Homo sapiens: one gene and its partners. The protein of the gene in region 1 purifies or fractionates together with the protein of each later gene. This does not show direct contact. Each region holds a gene or a part of one and is shown in the gene's direction. Other genes may lie near its edges. The genes, in order: RER1, OSBPL8, LETM1, TMED7, OAT, IARS2 and STX12.

Region 1 (3,500 bases):
TTTAGGCAGAAAGACTTCTTGTTTGTATAAGAAAGTTAAAGCATTTATATTTTTATTTATTGTTTTGAGATGGGGTCTCACTCTGTCGCCCAGGCTGGAGTGCAGTGGCCTGATCTTGGCTCACTGCAACCTCCACCTCCTGGGTTCAAGTGATTCTCTTACTTCAGCTTCCCGAGCAGCTGGGATCACAGGCATGTGCCACCATGCCTGGCTAATTTTTGTATTTTTAGTAGAGACGAGGTTTCACCATGTTGGCCAGGCTGGTCTTGAACTCCTGACCTCAGGTGATCCACCCGCCTTGGCCTCCCAAAGTGCTGGGATTGCAGGCGTGAGCCACCACACCCGACAGAAATTTAAGGCTTTTGAAATTGAGAATGCGGTTCTGGCTTTTAACGGGATATGCTTAATCATTTTAAAAAATGAATTAGTTGCAAATAAGTGTGCTGCACTCAGGCATCTTGCCAAAATTCTCCCCACTTTTCATCTCTTGAGGAAGGCTTGGCATAAGCACACTTTTCTGGATTTCCCAGTTGTGGATTTCTTCTGGGCAAAGGTTTAACCCTCCTGGCAGAGTGTTTTTGGCAATGTGAATTGTCTGTTGGAGGAACATCAGCCAGCACGCCTCCAGTCACAGTTGAGAGTCTGTCTTCTGTTTCTGATGAAGCTGCTCCTGGGTGGGGCTCTGGGCCAGCATCGCTCAGGTGCCCGGGCCACCCGAGCCTGTGGTGTAGCTTGAGCATGTGCTTCTTGAGAAAAGCCTCCTTTTCTGCTGCGCTCCTTGTGGGGCGTCTGTGGCTTCAGGGATCACATGTGTCTAACTGGACCCTTGAAGAGCTTTGCTCATTTGGGCCCTTGCTTGTCCGCTTTGTCTCTGTTCCCACAGAGTATAATTTGAGATAAATTGTTACCATGGGATTTCACTGTATTTCCTTGTCCTTGCTATGAGTAAGTTTTGTGTTAAAACAAAGTTAGATCAGTTAACAAAGTTGAGAGTGAACCGGAGTGCAAACGTGAACTGGCTCAGGCTGATGGACGGTCAGAGTGCACCACTGACTCTCTTTCCTTCTCTTTCAGGGTTGGTACATTGTGACCTATGCCTTGGGGATCTACCATCTAAATCTTTTCATAGCTTTTCTTTCTCCCAAAGTGGATCCTTCCTTAATGGAAGACTCAGGTAGGGTAGCGGCTGTGCACTGGGCTGTGTGGGCAGGTTGGGCCTTTCTTTTCTGATGGGATTGCCCAGTGTTCTCTGGAAACACCCGAGACTCTTCTCTTGGGGTTGAAATGTACTTGTAATGTTGGGTGATCAGGATATGTTTGTAGAATGACTCTTCAAACCCTCCTGACAGCCACGAAGTGGGTGTTCATTCTGTTTTCCCACTTTGCAGATGAGGAAACTGAGGCATACAGGGTTAGGTAACGTGTTCGAGGTCACATGGCACCACAGACAGTAGGGGTCTGAGGTGGACAGTCCGACTCCAGCCCCCGTCCCACCCCAGTCAGTGGTCCCTCTCAGAATCAGCGGAGGCAGCCATGACGAGGTTACCTTTTCCCGTAGCCAGAGGGTTCCACAGGCAGCTCACTGTGGTGCACAGAGACCGCCGGGACTCTAATGCCAGCATCGGGTCGGGTCAGGCTTTGGGCGGCCTTCTCTGGTTTCTGAGGAGCTGTGAGCTGAAGTGTTCCTGGTGCTTCGTGCTCCACTATTGGAAGACTTACGCAGCTCCTGGGCCTGCCTGGGCCAGGTAGGGGCCCTGAGTTCATGCCTGACTGGCCAGCCCCAGGCGAGGAACAAACAACTGCATTCCAGGACGTGGTGGCCATTGAGGGAAAACCCACACGCAGCTCCCTGCCAGGACCCTCCTCGTTCTGGGGGAACCTGCTGTCAGGGAGTAGGGTATGCTCTCACTGTGTGGCCAGAAGCCTGTGAGTCTTCTGTGTAGGATATGTGATGAAAAGATTGCTGGGAACACAGCCCCTCTCTGTTGTTGCTGTTTGGAGGAGACTAGAAAATAACAAAGAGCCCCTTTCCTGTAGGCCTCAGTTTTCCCATCTGTAAATGGGGAGCGGCACCCATCCCAGTGGGGGAGGCGGGGTGAGAGTGGGCTTGGCACAGCTGCTGGTGGGACAGGCCTGGCGCCCGGGTTCCACGGTCAGCGCATCCTCGGCCCCGCCCTGTTCTCTGCCGCTTGCTTTTTATGTTAATTTGCCTTTGTTTTCTTCTGTGCCTTTACGTGGTGCAGCTGACGTGTTCCTGGATGTTTATATGTGGTTGAATTCTTCGTGCATTGAAAACGTGTGGAAGTCTAAAAACATTCTGATAGCACCTTCTGAAAGCAGTGAATTGGATGTGTCAGTTGACCACAGACCCCCGTTTTCTCGTTTTCTCTGGTTAAATGACATGAATCTCGGTTTAGATTTGTGAGGCCTGCTAGTCCAAAGCCTTGAGGGGAAAAGGTAGAACTGTGATGGGAATGAAAAGAGGTGCCCTCCCTGATGGTTGCTCTGCCTTACAGATGACGGTCCTTCGCTACCCACCAAACAGAACGAGGAATTCCGCCCCTTCATTCGAAGGCTCCCAGAGTTTAAATTTTGGTGAGCTAATTCTTCACGGTATTTGAAGAGAATTGTGCTCAAGGGTGGCTGAGACTGAGACTACACTGATTTTTGTTCAAGTCACCTGAAAGATGACTGCTGTGCTGGGCTGGGCACGGGGAATCGCAGGGGCTCTCTGTAGAAGGCCACTCACTACCTTGCCGCATTCTCTTGGTTTCAAGTCAGCACCAGTGCCCTGGAGGTTGAGTCTGGGATGGAGTGCGCACCGGCTTCTGTGGTTGTGGCCTGGGGAGGGCAGGCCCTCTGTCCTCCCTCCTCCTCCCTCCTCCTCCCTTCCTCCCTCCTTCCTCCCTCCTTCCTCCCTCCTCCACCCTCCCTCCTCCCTCCTCCTTCCTCCCTCCTTCCTGCCGCCTCCTCCCTCCTTCCTGCCTCCTCCTCCCTCCTTCTCCCTCCTTCCTCCCTCCTCCTCCCTCCTTCCTCCCTCCTCCTCCCTCCTCCTCCCTCCTCCTCCCTCCTTCCTCCTTCCTCTCTCCCATCCCCAGCCTTGTGGCTCCTTTTGGCTGGCAGAGGGACTAGCCTTCTCCTGGAGTCATTTTTGAGAGGGGTTTGAGCCGAGGTGTCCGTGTCTGCACGGGTAGGCAGAGGTGGGTGGTGCAGCCGTCAGAGGGACGGGAGCGTGTGCATCCGTTTGTCTTGTCCCTCATACCCCACTCTGGGAGCACAGGAGGAACCCAAGTCTGTTAGATCAGTAAACTGAAGGAGCCTGCTGAGCTCGTGGGGCTCCACGCCTTGACTTTGCAGCCGCAGATGGAGTGTGGTACAGAAAGATCAGGGGCCCTGGAAGCCACCAGAAGCTTGGACTAGGAAGGGAGAGCTGAGCCTCCAGGGCCGTGGCATCTGTTGGCCATGTGCTGGGACGGGAGGGAGCACTGGTGGCCATGCCA
Region 2 (3,500 bases), on another chromosome or scaffold:
TTAAAATGAGAAAGCTGACACTTGCAGAGAGGTTAAGTAGGATCTGAACAAAAATGGAAAGGAAGGAATGCATATGTAGGGAATTTGGAAAAACATGTACAGCTTGCTGATTGGCAGTAAAAATTTGCAGAAGTGGTGTCGAAAGGGATTTAAAGTTTAGGTAACTAAACACTCACAATAAAAAATTGGAAAAAAGGGCTCAAGAAGCTGACTTCAGAGGTAGGCAAATGGGCAAGGAACAGAAGAGAGTAATACCTTCCTCAAGTTAATATGTATTTCTAATGAATTATTTCTGTTTTAATTAGTTAAAAAAACTGGTGCCATCCAAAATTCAACTAATGTGTAGTACTTTAAATATATTTGTAGTGTTCTAGTATTGCAATGATGTGTTTGAAACTTCAAAAGTGCAGAGTATTCATATTACTATGCTAATCTCTAGGCTACAAAAACAAATGCCCAGGAAAATTTTTATTACATGAGACACATTAAATTGAACTGTAGATTATTTTTATAGTTTCAACTTCATTCTAAATGTCTTTTTAGCTCAATCAGTAAAACCAAGTACAAGAAGAAAGAAAGGAATAGAACTGGGAGACATTCAGAGTTCCATCGAATCTATAAAACAAACACAGGAAGAAATTAAAAGGTAATAATATAATGACACTGACTATTCATTTGAGACCAAGGAGTAGTTAAGAATCCTGTTATATGGGAAATCATATGCAGACTTCATATTTTTATAACATTTAGCTAAGCTAAAATACAATGTTTAGCCTCTATCACCTGATGTTTGACACTTACGAAATTCCTCCAGCACTAAAATACTTGGGAAGGAAGGAGAGGTTGTTTTTTCTCTGTAAGGGTAGAATTGGAATCACTTTATTTTACTCCTATAGCATGCTAGGAATGTAGCTGGGTTGCATGTGGAGGTGGGATTGTTTCTGAGAAAGTCAGTTAACAAAGGCCTCTATAGTCCCCTCTGTGCATGGCTGTTATTTCATTGGAATGCATCAGTTGAAATATTGAAATACATCCATAACATTGGGTAAATATTTACTCCCTGAGCCCTTAAGTATTCCTCTTTGCAGTCCCAGACCCCGCCCCCCCCCACCCCTACATACCACCCCATGACCCAGCAACTAAAAATTATTAACATTAAATGCTCTGTGACTGTTTAATATCAAATTGTGGGCTCTATGCCAACATTTCTGGCAAATCATTACAAAATTTGTTGTTGCTTATTTTTATAGAAATATTATGGCTCTTCGAAATCATTTAGTTTCAAGCACACCGGCCACGGATTATTTTCTGCAACAAAAAGACTACTTCATCATTTTCCTCCTGATTTTGCTTCAAGTCATAATAAACTTCATGTTCAAGTAGAAGTTCTCTACCATTGAATCAGTGAACTAGAAAGATCTGATTTGGCCTGGGACCAGTGTTCAAGTTGGTTTGGTCTTTATTAAAAATCACAATATTCCGAAAACAAAAAAACCTAGGAGATAAATGTAGAGGTATTGACTTTTCGTATCTTTTATCTTCACACTGAAACAAGAGCTATCCTATTTGATTATTAAAGTGAGCTATGTGTTAAGTGCCAGGACATTTCTAGCTTTTGTGAGAATGTGTCTACATATGAGTATAATAAACCCACATGTATACACAATTGTCTCTTATGTACTCCTACCTGACAGTAGTCTTTGTATTCTATAGTATGTTCTGAGATATAATGTTAACATTGTTCATAACAAAAAATGCTATCAATCTTATAAATATATGTAATCTATTTTCTTCATAAAACAGGCACAAAAGTTTTATCAGTAAGGAATTACAGATTGAGAAATGATGGAATAATAGACATAATTAATTCAATACACTACTGTTAAAATCATTTGCAAAGCACTCAGCTCAATTATCTTCTTAGAAAGAAAGAAAAAGTATGAATGGTCAAAATGAATACATCGAGAGAGATAAATGGCAAATTGCTTTTTTAAAAGTTTACATAAGTTTTTTTTAACCCCTAGAATTTAATATTTGTAGATGCAGGTAAATATATATACTTACGTGTATATCAGTATAAAAACACTGGTGTGCAATTAATTGGATTGATTATAATACCACCTTAAGCACTTGCTGAAAAAAGTGTGGTCAAAATTGATTGCTGTCCTTTTGTCTTATTTTTGTTTTTCTTAAGTCAGCTGGTTCATAACATAGGCCAAATTCTAGAGATGTTTATAGAGCATTTGAAGTGCTGATAATTTATGTTTTTTCATTATGAAAACTTATTTTAGCTTTAGACTCCAGTGTGTTCAGTGAATAAGTAGAATATAAAAAAATATAACCAGTATTTTACTTCAAAAGCCAAAAAGAGGCAATAAGAAAAGACACTTTGTGGTGGCCTTTATGTGTGCATTAAAATTGGTTTCTGTAAAACGTGTAATAAGTTGAGTATCTACGAAGAGTATCAAGTTCTGAAGTTTAATTTTTTTATTATCCTCCTCTCTTCTTAGTAACTTCTTTCTGTGGCAAAACCACAATTCTTTAAGATTCCTATTGTTCAGGCTAAGGCAAATTTTTTTGTTTGTTTCTTCAGTTTAATATTTTGATTTTGTGTTTTTACGTAAATATTTATATTCCTTGAAAGCAATTTTTGCCAAGGTAGTTCAGTTTAGGAATATGTTGTTCTAAAATATGTCTTAGAATCCTGAAAGCATAGATTTTGAAATGTTTTTTTAATGAAAATGAAGGTCAGAGAGAATAATTGCCCTGACCACATTTGCCTTTCAGTAGGAGGAGGCTGTGAAATAGTAAAATTATAATCGTTTATGCCATGATAAATACAAGATTGGTAAATAAATACATTGATTGGTAAATTATGAGAATCAAAATGATAAAAAGAGCCTGCTTTTTTCCCTAACCAATATAGCTATCTTAAGTATCCTTAGGTTTCTGTGAAGAACCATTTCCCATGTTTTCTTGGCAAAATAATGCTGTATTCCATATGTACATGTGAAATGATGTTTTAAATTGATAAAAGCTTAAATAAGATCTACCTATACCCAGTATTTTCATGATATTAGAACAAATGGGTTTTTGGTTATATTTTATATTTGTCAATATAATTTTTGTATTCACATTCTGTTACACTCTGCCTATTCATTGATATATGATATTCTGTAAATATTGTACAATTTGATCTTTTTTATGGTTTAAATTAGTTAATTACATACAAATTGATTGGCTTATCACAAAAATCATTTCATCAGTAAACCTTGTTAACATTTTGTACTGGTGACCCACCTCTTAGGACTTTGGTCTTATCCACGTGTATGTTGTTTTCATTTGGTCCAAATAATATTTTATTTGTATGGGTATCTTCTAAGACTAAATAGGTAGTTGTGTTCTTTATTTTTAAAATTTCTTTTTAGAGCAAATGTTATGGGTTCTTACCCAAAGAGTCAAAAACTATTTCTTAAGAAAGAGCAGAGTTATTCATGACT
Region 3 (3,500 bases), on another chromosome or scaffold:
CCCTTCTCTTGGCCACGCCCTGTGCTGGTGCCTGGTTCCCAATGCCATCAAATTGAGTGGCTTGTAGGTCGGAAAGTGACAGCCCCAGCCACTCACTCTTACATGGAAAGGTTAAGGGGTGCAGGGCTCCAGCCGGTTTCCTCCCGGTGCCCTGGCACTGGCATGCCCTTGTTGGCAGTCATCCTCCTCCCGGGTTTTTCACACAACCTGCAAGTGTAGATGAAGGTGTGTGTACACACTTCTCCTCTCGACACAGACAGTATTTATGGCGTGATCCTGTGGCACCCCCTGCCTTCCACAGCCGCGTCTTCCATCGGATTCCCCAGCAGAGCCTTCTCTGTGTCTGGCATGGGTGCTGACCTCCCTAGCACTCTGCCCAGCCTTCTGGAGCTCCGTGGGGATATGGGCCACACACACAGGGGTGTCTGAGCAGGGGGGCAGGTGCTGTCCCTGCCCAGGCCCCTCGGCCCCCAGGGGAGTGTGGCGCATTGGGGGCCCGAGTGTCATGTGTTCACACTTTTCCTTCTCTACCCACCTCTCGGTGGTGCCTTTCTTCTCTTAGGGTTTGTTCTCATATTTTCTCTACCCACTTCTCCTCAGCGTTGCCTTTCTTCTCTTAGGGTTTGTTCTCATGTTTTGCCCCGTGTTCAGTTTGTCTCTAAACATTGTCACGGTCTTTCTTGCCCATTTGGAGATTGTCTTGGTGTTACTCAAGCAGCCAGCCCCGGAACCTGGCCTGTGCAGAGCCTGCAAGGGCCCGAGTGCTGACCGGCCTCAGTGACACTGCCTCTGCGGGCCCGTATATGTTGACCTGGGCTGGTCTTGTTTCTTTGTTTGAGACAGAGTCTTGCTCTGTCACACAGGCTGGAGTGCAGTGGCGCGATTTCGGCTTGAAACAACCTCCGCCTCCCTGGTTCAAGCAATTCTTGTGCCTCAGCCACCCAAGTAGCTGGGACTACAGGTGCACACCACTATACCTGGCTAATTTTTGTATTTTTAGTAGAGATGGGATCGCCATGTTGGCCAGGCTGGTCTCGAACTTCTGACCTCAGGTGATCCGCCCACCTCGGCCTCCCAAAGTGCTGGGATTACAGGCGTGAGCCACCGCGCCCGGCCCCTGGGGTGTTTTTAAGTGAAGAGTTGGTGCCCTGTTCTGAGGCCCTTGGGGTCCTCGCTGTGGGGGTTGCTGACCCCCAAGCCTCTCTGGTGTTTTGTTTACTAACGCCGTCATCGGGTCACGCAGCACAGCAACAAACAGACCTTGTAGAACTTGAGACACTGTCTTCTCTGAGAGCTATTCTGGTGATGAGATGGGCGGACCTGCTGTGGGGCCAGCAGGGTTGGGGGGCTGCCCATCTGCTGAACCTGGCCTTGGTTGCAGTGGCTGGACCTGCACCTGCATCAGGAGATCCCCACATCGCTGCTCATCCTGTCCCGGGCCATGTACCTCCCGGACACCCTCTCTCCAGCCGACCAGCTCAAGTCCACACTGCAGACCCTCCCAGAGATTGTGGTACGTGCTGTCGGAGACCCCTTTTACCTCATCTCTTCATAGGTGGCTCCGCTCTTCTGGGGTGGGGGGAGGTGTGCAAGCGCACTCATTCCTCAACCATGGGCGAGGAGCCTGCCTCCCACCCCCTCGCGAGTGCCCCCACCCAGCCACCTGTCCCCTTCCTTCCATCCCTCCTCACCAGCCCCTTGCCTGCCATCCCCCGTGTGGCACAGTTGCCAGTGGTCCCGACCTGGCCACGTGTTGGCTGCTGTGGATCTGGGCCGCGGCCCTTGGAGCTGTGTCAGCAGCGCCTATGCTCCTTCCCACATGTCAGGAGTCATCGGGCGAGCGCAGAGGGCGGCCCAGGGGCCTCCCAGCAATTGCGGGCAGCACCTCGGCAGTGCCTTCTGTCCTGTGTGTGTGAAGCCCAGGTGGTGACGGGGCAGGGGACACAGGACACAGGACAGAGGTGAGGGGCAGCAGGGGCCTCTGGTGGCTTCTGGGCTCACCCACAGATGTACCCTCTTCTGAAGGCAAAGGAAGCACAGGTGAAAGTGGCCGAGGTGGAGGGCGAGCAGGTGGACAACAAGGCCAAGCTGGAGGCCACGCTGCAGGAGGAGGCGGCCATCCAGCAGGAGCACCGTGAGAAGGAGCTGCAGAAGCGCTCGGAGGTGGCGGTAAGCGGTGGTCCTGCTCCGTGCCGCGTGGGGCTGTCCTGAGCCAGCCTCCCTAGAAACCCCCGCACGCCCACAGTCTTGGCCTCCCGCATGCTTGCCCTGCAGCTCTGTCCTGCATGTTTATTTCCTCCTGGAGTGGTCAGGGAGGCAGGGTGCCCGGGTGTGAGGGCTGCAACTCTGACATGGGGACTCCCCGATGGCCACAGTGGTGCTCATGGGAGATATACCTTAGCCGTCTCAGAGGGGCAAGCTTAGCATATGGCAGTGCCCACCCTCTCCTCAGGGACTTGCTGTGAGGGGCGCTGGCAGAGGAGCTGCAGGCTCCCCCAGCCTCTGGGCTCCTCTTCAACGCGGGCCCTGTGGTCCTCTTGGGTCACATGCATGGTGCCCACCCACAGGCTCAGCCTCCTGCTCTGCAAGTGACAGGGCAGCTTGGGGGAGTCTTGGGGAGACCAGAGATGGATAAGGTGCTCTAGCCTGTTCTGGAGAGGGCCCCAGGTGACCTGGCAGCTGCATGGAGCCTCCCTAGGGACCTTCTGTGGCAGGTGTGCTGCCCAATGTCACCTGCAGGCCTGCTCCCAGTGTGGCCTCTGCCATATGTTCTGAGCTTCGGGGAGCAAGAAGACTGCTTCTGTGTGATGGCGGGCGCTGGGCTGGTGTCGCCTTGCCTTTCAGAAGGATTTTGAGCCCGAACGTGTGGTAGCTGCTCCCCAAAGGCCGGGGACCGAGCCACAGCCAGAAATGCCTGACACAGTCCTGCAGTCAGAGACCTTGAAGGACACTGCCCCGGTGCTGGAGGGCTTGAAGGTAATGAGGCAGGTTCTGGGGCCCTGGAGGCTGAGGAGGGCATGGCCTGGCTTTGTGGACAGTTGTGGGGCAGGGATGGGGACAGGTTAGCTGGGGCATCTATAGCCCTCAGTGAGAGGAGATGGTGCAAGGGGTTGAGGATGAGGCCACTGGGCCCCTAGGAGGCTTGGTGGTTAGGAAAAGAGTGAGTCCGGCCGGGCTCCGCACTGTGCCTGGGTGCACAGCAGCTGACGCTGCCGTGAACTTAGCACCCTGGCCCACAGTGTGGCAGGTAGAGATGCCAGTCGGCAGGTTTCAGGGCCCTTTGCCAGCTTGCCCAGACAGTGAAGGGGTGTGGAAGCCAATGTGGCCCCTCAAGGTAGAGCCTCCTCCACAGGCCCAACCTGCTGTCACCTCCTGTGGGGTGATCTGGGCTTGGAGCATCTTCAGACTCCCCATGCGAGCCTGTGAGGTGCAGCCTCCAGGCGCCTGTGCTGCCTACCTGGGGCGCCTCCTGGTACCTTCCATCTTGAACTCGCGGGCTG
Region 4 (3,500 bases), on another chromosome or scaffold:
GGTCCCAAACATTTTGGATAAGGGATACTCAACCTGTATGGGCTTAGATCGTATCTAAAAGTTACTCAATTAGGCATGAAAAAGAATTATTTACCACTTATTCGTTAACATCTTAAACTGGTATTTTAGTGTTCCCAGGTTCTATTTAGTCTCTTGGCCAAAGTCATGGTGAAAGAAACAGCTTTAAGAATGTGTAAAAGCCTTAATTCATAAACCTGTTGTTAGAATTAGCAAGATATATTCAAATACTCTTAATTTTAGAAATGTTCTCTTTATTTTAAGGTCTTGTGTGAAGGACACCTTGCTTTGTAAAATGATATTTCTTTGGGGCCATTACCTTAACCTGTATCCATTCCTTCATGAATTTTAACTTGTATAAGGTGGCTTGTTCTAAAAACCTAAGTGGGTAAATATAAGAAATGAATGGTAATAAAGCAGTTAGTATCATACCCGTCTTTATCCATGCTACATTTTTTATTTTTCTCAGTCTTATTTTTCTACTTTCAAAAAGATAATGTATCATATAATAGGGATCATTATAAAGCAACTTTTCATACTTTAAAATTGAAAATTACCAGCTAGTAAGTTCAGAACAAAATTACCAGCTAGTAAGTTCAGAACAAAATTACCAGCTAGTAATGCAGAATAAATGATAAAAGTTTTACTCTCACCATTTTTTACCTGTTGATAAAATGATGGATTTAGAGTAGGCAATGATCAGCAGTCACTACTAAAACCATTAAGTAAAAGGCTGATGGGGAACTTTATACTGAGTGGATCAGACTGAATGATCATTCACAAATGGAGAGATAACTAGACATTATGTGCCTTATCATAATATGCAGTAAGAAGTACACAACATTGACTACTAGACGTTCCCACCCAGAACATTGCACCTGAATTCCATCAAGTCTCTAGCTCCAAATGCCAGTTTACAAGAAATACAGAGGATAAAGGAATAACATGGGAATGCAATCAACAAAATCCAGGACGTGGGAAATGCCACAGGATAGGGGTTGATGGCAAGGAAAAAAGGAAAAACAAGGAAGAAAGCCTAAAGATTAATGAACACTTACATCAGCCAAATGATTGTGTTAACCTTACTTGGATTCTTACTTGAAAACCAACTTTGAAACAATAGGGGAAATTTGAACACTATTTCCTGACTTTAAGGAACTGTTTTAGATTATTTCATGTGTTATAATACTATTGGGGTTATGTTTTTAAAAAGTGTTATCTTTTAGAAATAAAGTATAAAAGTATTTGTAGCTGAAGTGATAAAATATCTGAGATTTGCTTTAAAAATAATCGGGGAATGTAGATGAAGCAAGATTAGCCATGTGTTAATCTTTGTTGACATGGTGGGGGTTCATTGTACTTTTCTCAATACTTTTGAATATATATGGAAGTTTTCACTGTAAAAGTTTTTTAAAAATCACATCTCAGGCCAGGCGTGGTGGCTTACGCCTGTAATCCCAGCACTTTGGGAGGCCGAGGCGGGCGGATCATGAGGTCAGTAGTTAGAGACCAGCCTGACCAACATGGTAAAACCCTGTTTCTACTAAAAATACAAAAATTAGCTGGATGTGGTGGAGTGCACCTGTAATCCCAGCTACTCAGGAGGCTGAGGCAGGAGAATCACTTGAACCTAGGAGGTGGAAGTTGCAGTGAGCCAAGATTGCGCCATTGCACTCCAGCCTGGGTGACAGAGCGAGACTCCATCTCAAAAAAAGTCACATCTCAAAAGTTGTAGAATGCATGTAATTTAATTTCTGTGATTTTCTCTAATCCAGTAGTTCTTAACCCATACCCCATGGACAGGCTTGAAGGAGTTCCTAAATATTCTGCATTTGGGTCAACTCCTTGCCTTTATGTGTACTTTCCAGGTGAAGAATCCTTGGGCAATATGCCATTTTGAGAATATAGAGAAAGCAAATCCTAGAAGCACATCTCTCTCTAGCTCCTCATCACAAATTAGGAATCATTTTAGCACAGTTTTGCAAATTTTTCATTCCTAGGGGCCTGAACAAAGCAAGGACAACAAAAATATTTGACTCTTCTAATAGGTTAATGCAGTTTGTTGGCCTCATAATTTCTTACATTTTTTAAAAGCACTTTTAATAGAATATTTTAATAATTATTCCTTTCATACTTACTTTGGCAGAACTTCATTAAACATTATTTTCTAATTTCTATATTCCTTAACTAAAATTAAAACAAACTTAGATTTGTTTTTAAAACTCTTAATACAGGCTTGTTGCATAAAATAATAATAAAACATATATTTTACCACTAGGATTAAGTTTGCAGCAGTAGAAAAATATTAAACCATGGTATACAAAAAAACTAGTCATTTAACCTTTCTCAAAACAGATGGTATAATAAATGTATAAAAAGGCAAGCTGTTATCAGCTAAAGGCTCACAAATTGATTACACAGTGAAACTGAAACTTGCATCCTGTTGGGAACATACATATTGGTTTAGTTGACTGGCATGAGGGAAAAGGCTGATTTAACAAATAGATAAATGTAAAAAAACAAAGTCATTCCTATTCTGATAGATCCCTTTCAGATTTAAAAGTTACTAACGATTTTGATGTTGTGGCTGTTTTAAACATAGTTCAAAGAACTTTGACTAATTCAGCTTTTTTTTGTACTGTGCTTTGTTTATTTTTATAGATATTTGGGCTTTGACTTATATTCTCATTGGTGAGCTCACTGCCATTTTCTTCCTAATTCTTCTTTAAAGAACTTGGGCTGGAAATTCTGTAGTCACCAACCTTAGCTGATAAGTATTTCTGCTATTGTTAGCTTAGTGTTCCATCTGCCCCCTTACTGATGCCATGGCTGTGACATCTCAGTTGGGGAAAACAGCTGCTTCATGAGATCTCTAGCCTTAACAGTTGTCCCAGTGAAAATGAGCAGGGGGGTTTCATTGCAAAGACAACTGGCATAAATGTATGAATGAATGCCAGATTAGTAGCATGTTAGTCAAAAGAGGAATTGAGATCAAATTGAAAGAAAAGCTGAATATGATAGATGAAGTCTACAGAAAGTATCACACATACTGACTGAAAATATTTCTCTGCAGATGGAATCTGCCTGTGTTTCAATTCACGAAGCTCTGAAGTCTGTCATCGATTATCAGACTCATTTCCGTTTAAGAGAAGCTCAAGGCCGAAGCCGAGCAGAGGATCTAAATACAAGAGTGGCCTATTGGTCAGTAGGAGAAGCCCTCATTCTTCTGGTGGTTAGCATAGGGCAGGTATTTCTTTTGAAAAGCTTTTTCTCAGATAAAAGAACCACCACAACTCGTGTTGGATCATAACTACGTTTTGAGAATTGATGCACCATTGCCACTGTAATATTGCTGTCCTCTAATTAATTTTAGGTACTGAAGAACTTAATATTGGCAACATTTTTAAATCCTTACTCATACACTTGTTGGGAGGGATGTACAATGCATATTCCCAAACTGTGGAAAGGACACCTTTTTTTAT
Region 5 (3,500 bases), on another chromosome or scaffold:
TCCTCCCACCTCAGTCTCCTGAGTAGCTGGGACTGCAGATGCATACCACTACACCCAGCTAATTTTTCAATTTTTTTTAGTGATGGAGTCTTGCTCTGTTGCCCAGGCTGGTCTCAAACTCCTGGGCTCACGTGATCCTTTGACCTCAGCCTCCCAAAGTGCTGAGATTATAGGCATAAGCCAAGGATTCTCACTCTTAATGCATTCTCTTTTCTTTGGACAGATCTGTGGTTTTTCTACTTGAAGGACACAATGTTTTCCAAACTAGCACATTTGCAGAGGTTTGCTGTACTTAGTCGCGGAGTTCATTCTTCAGTGGCTTCTGCTACATCTGTTGCAACTAAAAAAACAGTCCAAGGCCCTCCAACCTCTGATGACATTTTTGAAAGGGAATATAAGTATGGTGCACACAACTACCATCCTTTACCTGTAGCCCTGGAGAGAGGAAAAGGTACGTTTCAAATTAATCCGTCTTTTCCCTTTTCTTGAAACCTTTTATAAAAAAAAATTGCTTCCATATTTTCACAATATACATTTTTCTAGATGTGTTTAATGTGTATATTGCAGACATGGTTAATTCTTCTTCTTCTTTTTTTTTTTTTTTTTTTGAGACGGAGTCTCACTCTGTCACCCAGGCTGGAGTACAGTGGCACAATCCCAGCTCACTGCAACCTCTGCCTCCCAGGTTCAAGCGATTCTTCTGCCTCAGCCTCCTGAGTAGCTGGGACTACAGGCGTGCGCCACCACACCCAGCTAATTTTTGTATTTTTAGTAGAGATGGGGTTTCACCATGTTGGCCAGGCTGGTCTCAGACTCCTGACTTTGTGATCCTCCCACCTTGGCCTCCCAAAGTGCTGGGATTACAGGTGTGAGCCACCACGCCTGGCCAGTTAATTCATTTATTGAGTGTCTAGTGCTGCTGTGTTAGGTGCTATGGAGGCTTCAAAGAGGAACCATTGTCTTTGTCATGTAGACCTTACCAAGAGGGAATGCAAGAGAAATAAGGAAAGTACTATCATATTGCTGTCATTTTTTTCTTTTAACTTTTATTTTGGCATAGTTTTAGACTTAAGAAAAGTTGTAACAAATAGTACTGACATTTTCCTTTTATACTTCTCCCAGATTTTCCAAGTGCTAACTTTTTGCTGCTTTGGTCTTAGTGTGTTCACTCCCTTCTCTTCTCCCCCCGCCGCCTGCATATTCTACATTGTTTTCTGAACTGTTTTGAGAGGAAGTTGCAGACATGACATCTCTTCTTCTTTTTTTTTTTTTTTTTTTTTTTTTGAGACGGAATGTCGCTTTGTCACCCAGGCTGGAGTGCAATGGTGGGATCTCGGCTCACTGCAACCTCTACCTCTCGGTTTCAAGTGATTCTCTTGCCTCAGCCTCCCGAGGAGCTGGGACTACAGGCCCACGCCACCACGTCCAGCTAATTTTTGTATTTTTAGTAGAGACAGGGTTTCATCATGTTGGCCGGGCTGGTCTCGAACTCCTGACCTCAGGTGATCCACCCACCTCAGCCTCCCAAAGTGCTGGATTACAGGCGTGAGCCACCGCGCCCCGCCACATGACATCTCTTTACCCATAAATACTTAGTGTGTCTTTCCAAAAACGCAATGACTTTTTGAGATAGGGTCTCATTCTGTTGCCCAGGCTGGAGTTCAGTGGTGTGATCATGGCTCACTGCAGCCTGGAACTCCCGGCTTCAGGTGATTTTCCCACCTCAGCTTCCCAAGTAGCTGGGACTACAGGTGTGCCTTACCATGCCTGGCTTATTTTTTGTAGAGATTAGATTTTGCTATGTTGCCCAGGGTGATCTTGAACTCCTGGTCTCAAGTGATCCTACCACTCAGCCTCCCACAGTGCTGGGATTGCAGGTGTGAGCTACTGTGCCCAGCTGACTTTCTCTTTTATAACCATAGAGTAATTGTAAAAATCAAGAACTTAACACTGGTACAGCACCATTAGTCTAGAGACCTAATCCAGATGTCATTTGTTCTCTTTTATAACAAAAGAAAAACCTCCGATGAGTTGCATTCAGTTGTCATGTTTAGTCTTCTTTAACCCAGAACAGTTCCTCAATCCTTGGTTGTCTTGGTCTTCTTTCCCTTTGTATTAAGTATCTTGTGGGGACAGAGTGTAAAACTCTGTAAATATCCAGTTACTCATGAACTTTTACTCACAATTTCAGCATCCACTAATGATTCTTGCCTGAATAAATGATTACGGTGGTAGTTGCCAAATGGTGATTTAATCTACAATTTGGAATAAATAACAGCCTTAACCAAATAAAACCAAAGTTTATTACTTAGCTTTGTACCAGAAAATGACAATATAAGAGTATCACACATTTTGGTCATTTGCTTGTATTTTATTTGGTACCAGTACTGTAGACATATCTTCTTTTGAACTATTGAAAATCTGTTTCATATTACATGACATGGCAACCTTGTTTTTACTTTCCCACTAGCAATGTATGAGAGTGCCAATTTCTTCAGATCCTTGTCAAAAGTTGTTTTTTTAATTATAACCATCCCAGGGAGTATGAGATGGTATCTCATTGTGGTTTTAACTTGCATTTTCCTAATGATTAGTGATGTTGAACATCTTTTCATGTGTTTCTTGCCATTTGTATATCTTCTTTGAAGAAATAGCTATTCAAGTCTTTCCCCATTTTTTAAATTGGGTTGTTTGTCCTTTTGAAATTGAGTTGTAAGAATTCTGGATATTAGATCCTTATCAGACACATGATTTACAAATATTTTTTTTCCATCCTAAGGGTTATTACAGTCTACTTCTCATGATTTTTGTCTGTTATGTGTAACTTCTGCTTTTTTATTTTTAAATTTTATTTATTTTATTTTTTTTTTTTATAGGCAGGATTTTGCTCTGGTGCCCAGGCTGGAGTGCAGTGGCACAATCTCAACTCACTGCATCCTCTACCTCCCAGGCTCAAGCAATCCTCCCACCTCAGCCTCTGTAACGGGACCATACGCGCGCACTACCATGCCCAGCATTTTTCTGTAGCGTCAGGGATTTTGCCGTGTTGTCCAGGCTGATCTGGAACTCCTGGGCTCAAGCAATCCCTGCCTTGGTCTCCCAAAGTGCTAGGATTACAGGCGTGAGCCACGGCTCCCTGCCTAACTTCTGCTTTTAAATTCTAATTTTGGATCCTAAATCTTAGAATTAGGTAAAGGTTTTACTCCAGAGTTTATAACCTTTTTGTGTTATTTTTGTTAAATGTGTGTTTTGAAGCTGGGCAGATAAAATACAATTCTTAGTAATTCCTTACAAACCAAAGTTTATTATGCCTGAGCTAAAACAAGCTTTAACTACAAATATGTATTAAATAGAGGTTCATATATAGGCATTCAGAGGGCTTGCTAGCACTCTTAATTTTTGGACTTTATGCCGTATAGTAATTGTCTAAAATTATTTTCCTTTCTTATGTATTTTAGGTATTTACTTATGGGATGTAGAAGGCAGAAAATATTTTGACT
Region 6 (3,500 bases), about 220 Mb from region 1:
CCCGGCTAATTTTGAAAAAATATTTTACAGAGATGAATTCTTGTTGTGTAGCCCAGACTGGTCTGGAATTCCTGGGCTCAAGTGATCTGCCTGCCTTGGCCTGCCAAAGTGCTGGGATTAAAGGCGTAAGCCACTGTGCCTAGCCCAAAATAATTCTTTGTGAGCTATAATTTGGGACTTTTGAGGTAGTGACTGCTTTGAAATATAATTATGGAAGTCTAGGGAAGTTTAAAATTAGCTTTTTGTTGTTGTTGTTCTTCATTTTGTTTTGAGACGTGGTCTTGCTCTGTTGCCCAGGCTGGAGTGCAGTGGTGCCATCTTGGCTCACTGCAGCCTCTGGATCCTAGGCTCAAGTGATCTTCCTGCCTCAGCCTCTTGAGTAGCTGGGACTACAAGTGTGTGCCACCATGCTGGACTAATTTTTAATTTTTTTGGTAGAGATGAGGTCTTGCTACATTGCCCAGGCTGGTCTTGAACTCCTGGCCTCAAGTGATCCTCCTGCTTTGGTCTTCCAAAGTGCTGGGATTATGGGCATGAGCCACTGTGCCTGGACTAAAATTCTATTTTATTTTATTTTATTTTTAAAGAGATGAGGTCTCACTATGTTGCCCAGGCAGATCTTGAACTCCTGAGCTCAAGTGTTCCTCCTGCCTCTGCCTCCCAAAGTGGTAGGATTATAGACGTGAGCCACCATGCCTGGGCTAAAATTATCTTTGATCCTTAGGTATGATATATCTTTTAATTTCTTGCTAAAAAATCTATCACATGAATAAAGATACAAAAACTGCCTAGAAAGACTGCCTAGCTAAATAGGAAAGCCCTCTAAATTAATCAGTTCAGATACAAGCCAATGAGAAGTTTAAACAACCTTAACAAAAATAAAAAGATTTTTATGTCAGAGGCAGGAAAGGAGCTTAAGAATTTTGAAGACCATTTGGTCCTCTTTGGTGCAATAGGGTAATAAAAATAAAAACCAAGATAATAATTTACTTCACACCCTCTCTCACTGTGTTGCCCAGGCTTGTTTCAAACTCCTGGGCTCAAGCAATCTTCCTGCCACAGCCTCCCAAAGTGCTGCAATTACAGACATGAGCTACTGCACCCAGCCCCCTGCTCTTTTATAAATGCAGAGGATATTAAAGACTTCATTGTCAAGTTATACATTATCATAGAAGCTAAAAATCACAAGATTTTTGAAAGTGTTAAGGTTGAATTTAAAGATCTTTTGTCTAGATAGCATAATTGTTTCAAATTCTTACTATCAGATAATTATTGAGTTGCTATTTGAGTCACCATATTGTGGAGGAGTATATATATTATCCCTGTCAAAATAAGCTGGTGTCACGTAGCTACTACTTATTAAAGTAGTAGGAATGTTGAAGAGCTAAAAATGAAGTAATTTGTATGGGGTAGGTTTTCTTTCCGGAAAAAAATGAATTATTTCTTATCAATTACTTAGAGATCATTTTGGGAGGGTGGTGAGGGAGAATATTAAGTGGTAGATGCAGTAAGTATCAAAACACTTAAACTACATTAACTCTGTTTATTCTCACAGAAACCCTCTGAGGTGGGAACCATAATTATCTGCATTTTATAGATTATAGAAGGTCACAGAACAAGTTAAAGGGGAAGCTGGAATTTAAGCCTAGCCAGTATTGTTCTAGATTCTGCACATTTAACCTGATACTCTATTGCTAAGCTTAAGGAGATAGATTTGCCATATAAAATGATTCTTAATAGTGGTTTTCTTTCCCCACAGGTGTAGATTTGGAAAATGGTACTTGCAGTCATCCATTAATTCCTGATAAAGCCTCTCCTCTTTTACCTGCAAATCATGTGACCATGGCAAAAGGAACGGGATTGGTTCACACAGCCCCAGCTCATGGTATGGAAGACTACGGTGTAGCGTCTCAGCACAACCTGCCCATGGTACTGTTCCTCTTTTATCATTTTTAATTATTCATCTTAATAAAAGGAAATGATAAATTCTAACCAACATCTTCATTTTTTAAAAATGATGACTTTTGTCATCATAATTGTGAAATGCTCAGGTTTGTGTAGTACTCTAAAGTTTCATTAATTCGTACTAATTGAAAAAGATTTCCCAGAATTAATAGAAAATTAGCACTTTAGAATTGAAGAATATATATCATGGGGCACTTTTAAAATACTTTTTTTCTAGTATCAAGTCACATAGACAAATTACTTTTATTCCCTGAAAAAGCCTGTTTGTTTTAGCTAAACAGTCCTTTCTACATTTACTTTACATACTTCAGTTACTTAGCAAGTATTTCCGTTTAGTTAAAAGGTGAGTCAGAAAGGGAACAACTGTGTATATAGGCATAGATTTGGAAACAATAGAGACCACTCAAAGATGTTTTAATATATTTTGTTACTTTTGTTATTAAAGTTTATGGATATGCTTCAATAACACATTTTGGCTTTGGTGATTTAAATGTATAAAATTCACAAATTCCTATTTCCTTTTCTTTTCTTTTCTTTTTTTTTTTTTTTGAGAGGGAGTCTTGCTCTGTCGCCCAGGCTGGAGTGCAGTGGTGTGGTATGATCTCGGCTCACTGCAACCTCTACCTCCAGGGTTCAAGCGATTCTCCTGCCTCAGCCTCCCGAGTAGCTGGGACTACAGGTGCACACCACCATGCCTGGCTAATTTTTGTATTTTTAGTGGAAGTGGGTTTCACCATGTTGGCCAGGCTAGTCTCAAATTCCTGACCTCAAGTGATCTGCCCACCTCGACCTCCCAAAGTGCTGGGATTATAGGCCTGAGTGCCGCGCCCGGCCAAGTACCTAGAATTTCAATGTAGAAAAAGACCAGGCTATACTGAGATGTTTTTATATATATTGTTTTGCCAGATATTGTCATAAGAGAAAATGTCTTGATATTTTAATTGTTCAAAATGATACTTTATAGGATTGTCTAGTGGACGAAGATGGAGTTTTCACAGATGTTGCAGGTCCTGAACTTCAAAACAAGGCTGTCCTTGAAGAGGGAACTGATGTGGGTGAGCATCATATCTGTTGATATCATACATGTTTTCTGAAAAGTAGGTAGCAGTAACCTTTGCTACCTATTTTCCCTCCTTATACTTTAACAGAAACAAAAAAATAAATTATGTCTTGTTTTGCCATATGTTTTAAAATGGAGTTTGGGACTTTTTCATCTTTTGCTTTGAAGCTGCTTTATTTAAGCAAGTCAGGGCAGTCAACAGGGAGTGAAGTTATTTTAGGGCTATGGAGATAATAATCAGCAGTATTACTTTTGTGGAAGGATACAATCAAGATCAGGGCTGGATGTTGACTGTAAATTACACATTCCCTACTCACTTTTTAACCCTTGTAAATAACTGACCTATATGGCATGATTTATGTATTAGAATCTTGGGAATCCTCCAGCCTTGAATTGTCTTTCTGTCTTCCTTTACAGATTCAGAGACCAAGTGCTATGAAAACCTTTCTTTGCCCACACTAAGACTAAGGCTATT
Region 7 (3,500 bases), about 25 Mb from region 1:
TTCCAGGCAGTATGAAAAGTGCTTTACATACATTATCTTATTTTATAACAACTCTGAAGCACCAGTATCATTTCCATGTTATGTATTAGGAAACAAACTAAGAAAGGTTAAATAGTTGCCCTGCTAACAAATGACAATATCTGAATTTGAAACTAGGTCTCTTATGACCAGCAATTTGTCTTTTTATTACTTTTTATTAATATTACAGTTCTGGGCTGTGCTCAGTGGCTCACACCTGTAATCCCAGCACTTTAGGAGGCCAAAGAGGGAGGATTACTTGAGGCCAGGAGTTTGACACTAGCCTGGACAACATAGTGAGACCCCATCTCTACAAAAAAAAAGTTAAAAATTAGCCAGACATGGTAGCATGTGCCTGTAGTCCTAGCTACTCAGGAGGCTGAGGCTGGAGAATCTCTTGAGCCCAGGAGTTGGAGGCTGCAGTGAGCTGTGATTATGCCACTGTACTGCAGCCTGGGTGGCAGATCAATACTTTGTCTCTAAATAAATAAATTAAAAATAAATAAATCAATAACAGTGCTATAGCAGTTAACACTTCAGGTTTACAAGTATGCAAATAACTTGTTTTTTCACTCTCCAGAGGACACTCTGTGGGGGAAATACCTGAAGCCGTGGTGCTTTCTCTTCTCGTGGTGTGTTCATCTCCTCTGCCAGATTGTTAGCTCCTTTGAGTCAAGGGACATGACTTATTCATCTTTATATTTCCAGTACTTATCTCAGTCCCAAACATATGAAAGATTCATTGATCCACTATGCAACAAATATTCCTGGAGCACCTGCTGTGTGCTGGGGTGAAGCAGAACAAGAGATAAAATCCCTCCCCTGATTGTGTGTATATGTGTGTTTCTGTGTGCGGGGGGAGTATGTATACACACATACGTACATACACATATAAATAATGTCAAGTAATAATAAATGCTATGAAGAAAAAGCAGGGTAAGTGGGTAGAGAGTCAGGGAAGAGGGAGGGTGGGTGCATTATTTTAGTTGATCAAGGAAGGCATCTCTGAGGAGCTGACATTTGAGTGAGTAGACATGTGAATGAAATGAGCAAGAGCTGTGTGAGTAGCTGGGAAAGGCATTCTAGGTAGAGGGCAAGAGCAAGGACTTTGATGTGTTCAAAGAAGAGCAAGGAGGCTAGTTTGGCTGGAGTACCGTTAGAAAAGGGAGGCAGAATAGGAAAAGAGGCCAGAGAGGTAACCAGGGATCACATTATATAGGATCTTGATGCATAATAAATTGTATCAAATTGATTTGAATGAATGAGGCATTTCTACCATTTTGGAACTCTTCCTGCCTCTTTCCCCTTGTACTGTGTAGTACATACCATATCCTATGACCCTAGGCAGTGTGAGTTGAGATTCTTCCAGGCCGGACACGGTGACTCACGCCTGTAATCCCAGCACTTTGGGAGGCTGAGGCAGGCGGATCACAAGGTCAGGAGTTTGAGACCAGCCTGGCCAATATGGTGAAACCCTGTCTTTACTAAAAATACAAAAAAATTAGCCAGGCGTGATGGTGCACGCCTGTAATCCCAGCTACTTGGGAGGCTGAGGCAGGAGAATTGCTTGAATCCGGGAGGCGGAGGTTGCGGTGAGCCGAGATTGCGCCACTGCACTCTGGCCTGGATGACAGAGCGAGACTCAGTCTCAAAAAAAAAAGAAAAAAGAAAGAAATTCTTCCTTTGGAATTGTTTGGTGAGAAATGGGAAATCTGAAATTGATGGGATGACGTTGCATCTACTCAGTTATCAAGCTAGTGCCTATCCCCAAACCTCTCCAAGAGGCCAGCACACCCAAATATACCCTTAGAATATGAGCTCTCAGACATATATATTACCCACACACCCATACAGCCCTGCAAGGACTTGTACCCATTAAAAGTCTGAGAGCATAGTTATTCTTTTTTCTAAACTGTTCAGCCACAGATGTGGGGTTGGAATTGCTGAGCACATCAGCCTGAGATAAGGCAGCTCACTGCGTGGGTTGTTACAGGTACAGCTAAGGTTGACTGCCTGGTACAAGTGGTGATTATCAGTATGTGTTGGGTACAGAAGAAAAATATTTGACTTACTGTGGAACAAAGTGTCTGGGCAAGTATTGCTGAGGCAGATATAGCTGAAAACCTATTAGCCTCAAAGTTAACTCTGAAGGGATTAAAGAACAGCATTTCTGACTGGGCGAGGTGTCTCACGCCTGTAATCCCAGCACTTTGGGAGGCCGAGGCGATCGGATCACCTGAGGTCAGGCATTCGAGACCAGCCTGGCCAACATGGCGAAACCCTGCCTCTACTAAAAATCAAAAAGTAAGCCGGGTGTGATGGCAGGCGACTGTAGTCCTAGCTGCTCGGGAGGCTGAGGTAGGAGAATCGCCTGAACTGGGGAGGTGCAGGTTGCAGTAAACCAAGACCAAGATCGCTCCACTGCACTCCAGCCTGGGCAACAGAGCGAGATTCCATCTCAGGAAAAAAAAAAAAAAAAGAACAGCATTTCTGTTCTTTATGTTGCTAATTGATGTGATCTTGTTTACTAACAAAATAAGAAGAGTGGAGGTCTCACTCTGTCACCCAGGCTGGAATGCAGTGTGCAATCGTAGTCCACTGTAACCTCAAACTCTTGGGCTTTAGCGATCCTCTTACTTGAGTCTCCCAAATAGCTAGGACTACAGGCATATGCCACTGCGCCTGGCAAGTTGTAAAAGTTTTTTAGAGACGGGGGTCTCGCTGTGTTGCCCAGGCTGGTCTTGAATTCCTGACCTCAAACCATCCTCCCACCTCAGTCTCCCAAAGCAAGAAGAGTTGAACATTTAAAATTGATTATTATGAAATCCTTGGGGTTCCACTTTCAAAGTTATTTTCATGTTTGCCCCTTATTTTTTATGTTTCTTTGCTATCCTCTTAAGTATTCATCAGCTCAACATCTGTATTTCAACAGCATATTCATAGTGTCTCTGATTATGGTCTTGCCCCATTCTAGTTTATACTGATGGTGCTATCAGCACTATGTCTAAAGTCCTGTTTTTATTATACTGCTCACTTCCTCAAGAGCCTAAAGTGGCTCTCTGTTGTCTATTGAATCAGATGGTTTTTTTTGTTTTTGTTTTTTTTTGTTTTTTTTTGAGCCAAGTCTCACTCTGTCGCCCAGGCTGGAGTGCCATGGCGCAATCTTGGCTCACTGTAACATCCACCTCCTGGGTTCAAGCAGTTCTCCTGCCTCAGCCTCCCGAGTTGCTGGGATTACAGGACCTGCCACCACGCCCAGCTAATTTTTGTATTTTTATAGAGACAGGGTTTCACCATGTTAGCCAGGCTGGTCTCGAACTCCTGACCTCAGATGATCCACCTGCCTCGGCCTCCGAAAGTGCTGGGATTACAGGCATGAGCCACCGTGCCTGGCCTGAATCAGATCTTAATATTTCACCTTGCTTTCACTCCCTGCGATCTTAACCCAAATTAGCCATATTTTCTACTCTTCCTTACTCTTT

Evidence for each region.
Region 2: the proteins of RER1 (region 1) and OSBPL8 purify together in Homo sapiens (affinity purification with mass spectrometry, with the first as the bait; one large-scale study listed by BioGRID). This does not show direct contact.
Region 3: the proteins of RER1 (region 1) and LETM1 purify together in Homo sapiens (affinity purification with mass spectrometry; one large-scale study listed by BioGRID and IntAct). This does not show direct contact.
Region 4: the proteins of RER1 (region 1) and TMED7 purify together in Homo sapiens (affinity purification with mass spectrometry; one large-scale study listed by BioGRID and IntAct). This does not show direct contact.
Region 5: the proteins of RER1 (region 1) and OAT purify together in Homo sapiens (affinity purification with mass spectrometry; one large-scale study listed by BioGRID and IntAct). This does not show direct contact.
Region 6: the proteins of RER1 (region 1) and IARS2 purify together in Homo sapiens (affinity purification with mass spectrometry; one large-scale study listed by BioGRID and IntAct). This does not show direct contact.
Region 7: the proteins of RER1 (region 1) and STX12 fractionate together in Homo sapiens (co-fractionation; one large-scale study listed by BioGRID). This does not show direct contact.

Annotation. Positions count from the first base shown.
Region 1 is NC_000001.11:2,398,341-2,401,840, forward strand, and holds part of RER1 (protein RER1), read left to right. Parts: intron 1-1,074; coding exon 1,075-1,174; intron 1,175-2,516; coding exon 2,517-2,595; intron 2,596-3,500. UniProt on the Homo sapiens protein: Involved in the retrieval of endoplasmic reticulum membrane proteins from the early Golgi compartment.
Region 2 is NC_000012.12:76,353,772-76,357,271, reverse strand, and holds part of OSBPL8 (oxysterol-binding protein-related protein 8), read left to right. Parts: intron 1-543; coding exon 544-646; intron 647-1,250; coding exon 1,251-1,383; 3' UTR 1,384-3,500. UniProt on the Homo sapiens protein: Lipid transporter involved in lipid countertransport between the endoplasmic reticulum and the plasma membrane: specifically exchanges phosphatidylserine with phosphatidylinositol 4-phosphate (PI4P), delivering phosphatidylserine to the plasma membrane in exchange for PI4P, which is degraded by the SAC1/SACM1L phosphatase in the endoplasmic reticulum.
Region 3 is NC_000004.12:1,821,657-1,825,156, reverse strand, and holds part of LETM1 (mitochondrial proton/calcium exchanger protein precursor), read left to right. Parts: intron 1-1,381; coding exon 1,382-1,513; intron 1,514-2,025; coding exon 2,026-2,169; intron 2,170-2,844; coding exon 2,845-2,976; intron 2,977-3,500. UniProt on the Homo sapiens protein: Plays an important role in maintenance of mitochondrial morphology and in mediating either calcium or potassium/proton antiport. Mediates proton-dependent calcium efflux from mitochondrion.
Region 4 is NC_000005.10:115,616,037-115,619,536, reverse strand, and holds part of TMED7 (transmembrane emp24 domain-containing protein 7 precursor), read left to right. Parts: intron 1-337; exon of another isoform or gene 338-398; intron 399-3,091; coding exon 3,092-3,328; 3' UTR 3,329-3,500. Other genes in the region: TMED7-TICAM2 (TRAM adaptor with GOLD domain isoform 1 precursor), read left to right, coding at 3,092-3,219. UniProt on the Homo sapiens protein: Potential role in vesicular protein trafficking, mainly in the early secretory pathway. Appears to play a role in the biosynthesis of secreted cargo including processing and post-translational modifications.
Region 5 is NC_000010.11:124,408,924-124,412,423, reverse strand, and holds part of OAT (ornithine aminotransferase, mitochondrial isoform 1 precursor), read left to right. Parts: intron 1-223; 5' UTR 224-252; coding exon 253-451; intron 452-3,458; coding exon 3,459-3,500. UniProt on the Homo sapiens protein: Catalyzes the reversible interconversion of L-ornithine and 2-oxoglutarate to L-glutamate semialdehyde and L-glutamate.
Region 6 is NC_000001.11:220,104,132-220,107,631, forward strand, and holds part of IARS2 (isoleucine--tRNA ligase, mitochondrial precursor), read left to right. Parts: intron 1-1,759; coding exon 1,760-1,929; intron 1,930-2,929; coding exon 2,930-3,020; intron 3,021-3,500.
Region 7 is NC_000001.11:27,776,219-27,779,718, forward strand, and holds part of STX12 (syntaxin-12), read left to right. Parts: intron 1-3,500. UniProt on the Homo sapiens protein: SNARE promoting fusion of transport vesicles with target membranes. Together with SNARE STX6, promotes movement of vesicles from endosomes to the cell membrane, and may therefore function in the endocytic recycling pathway.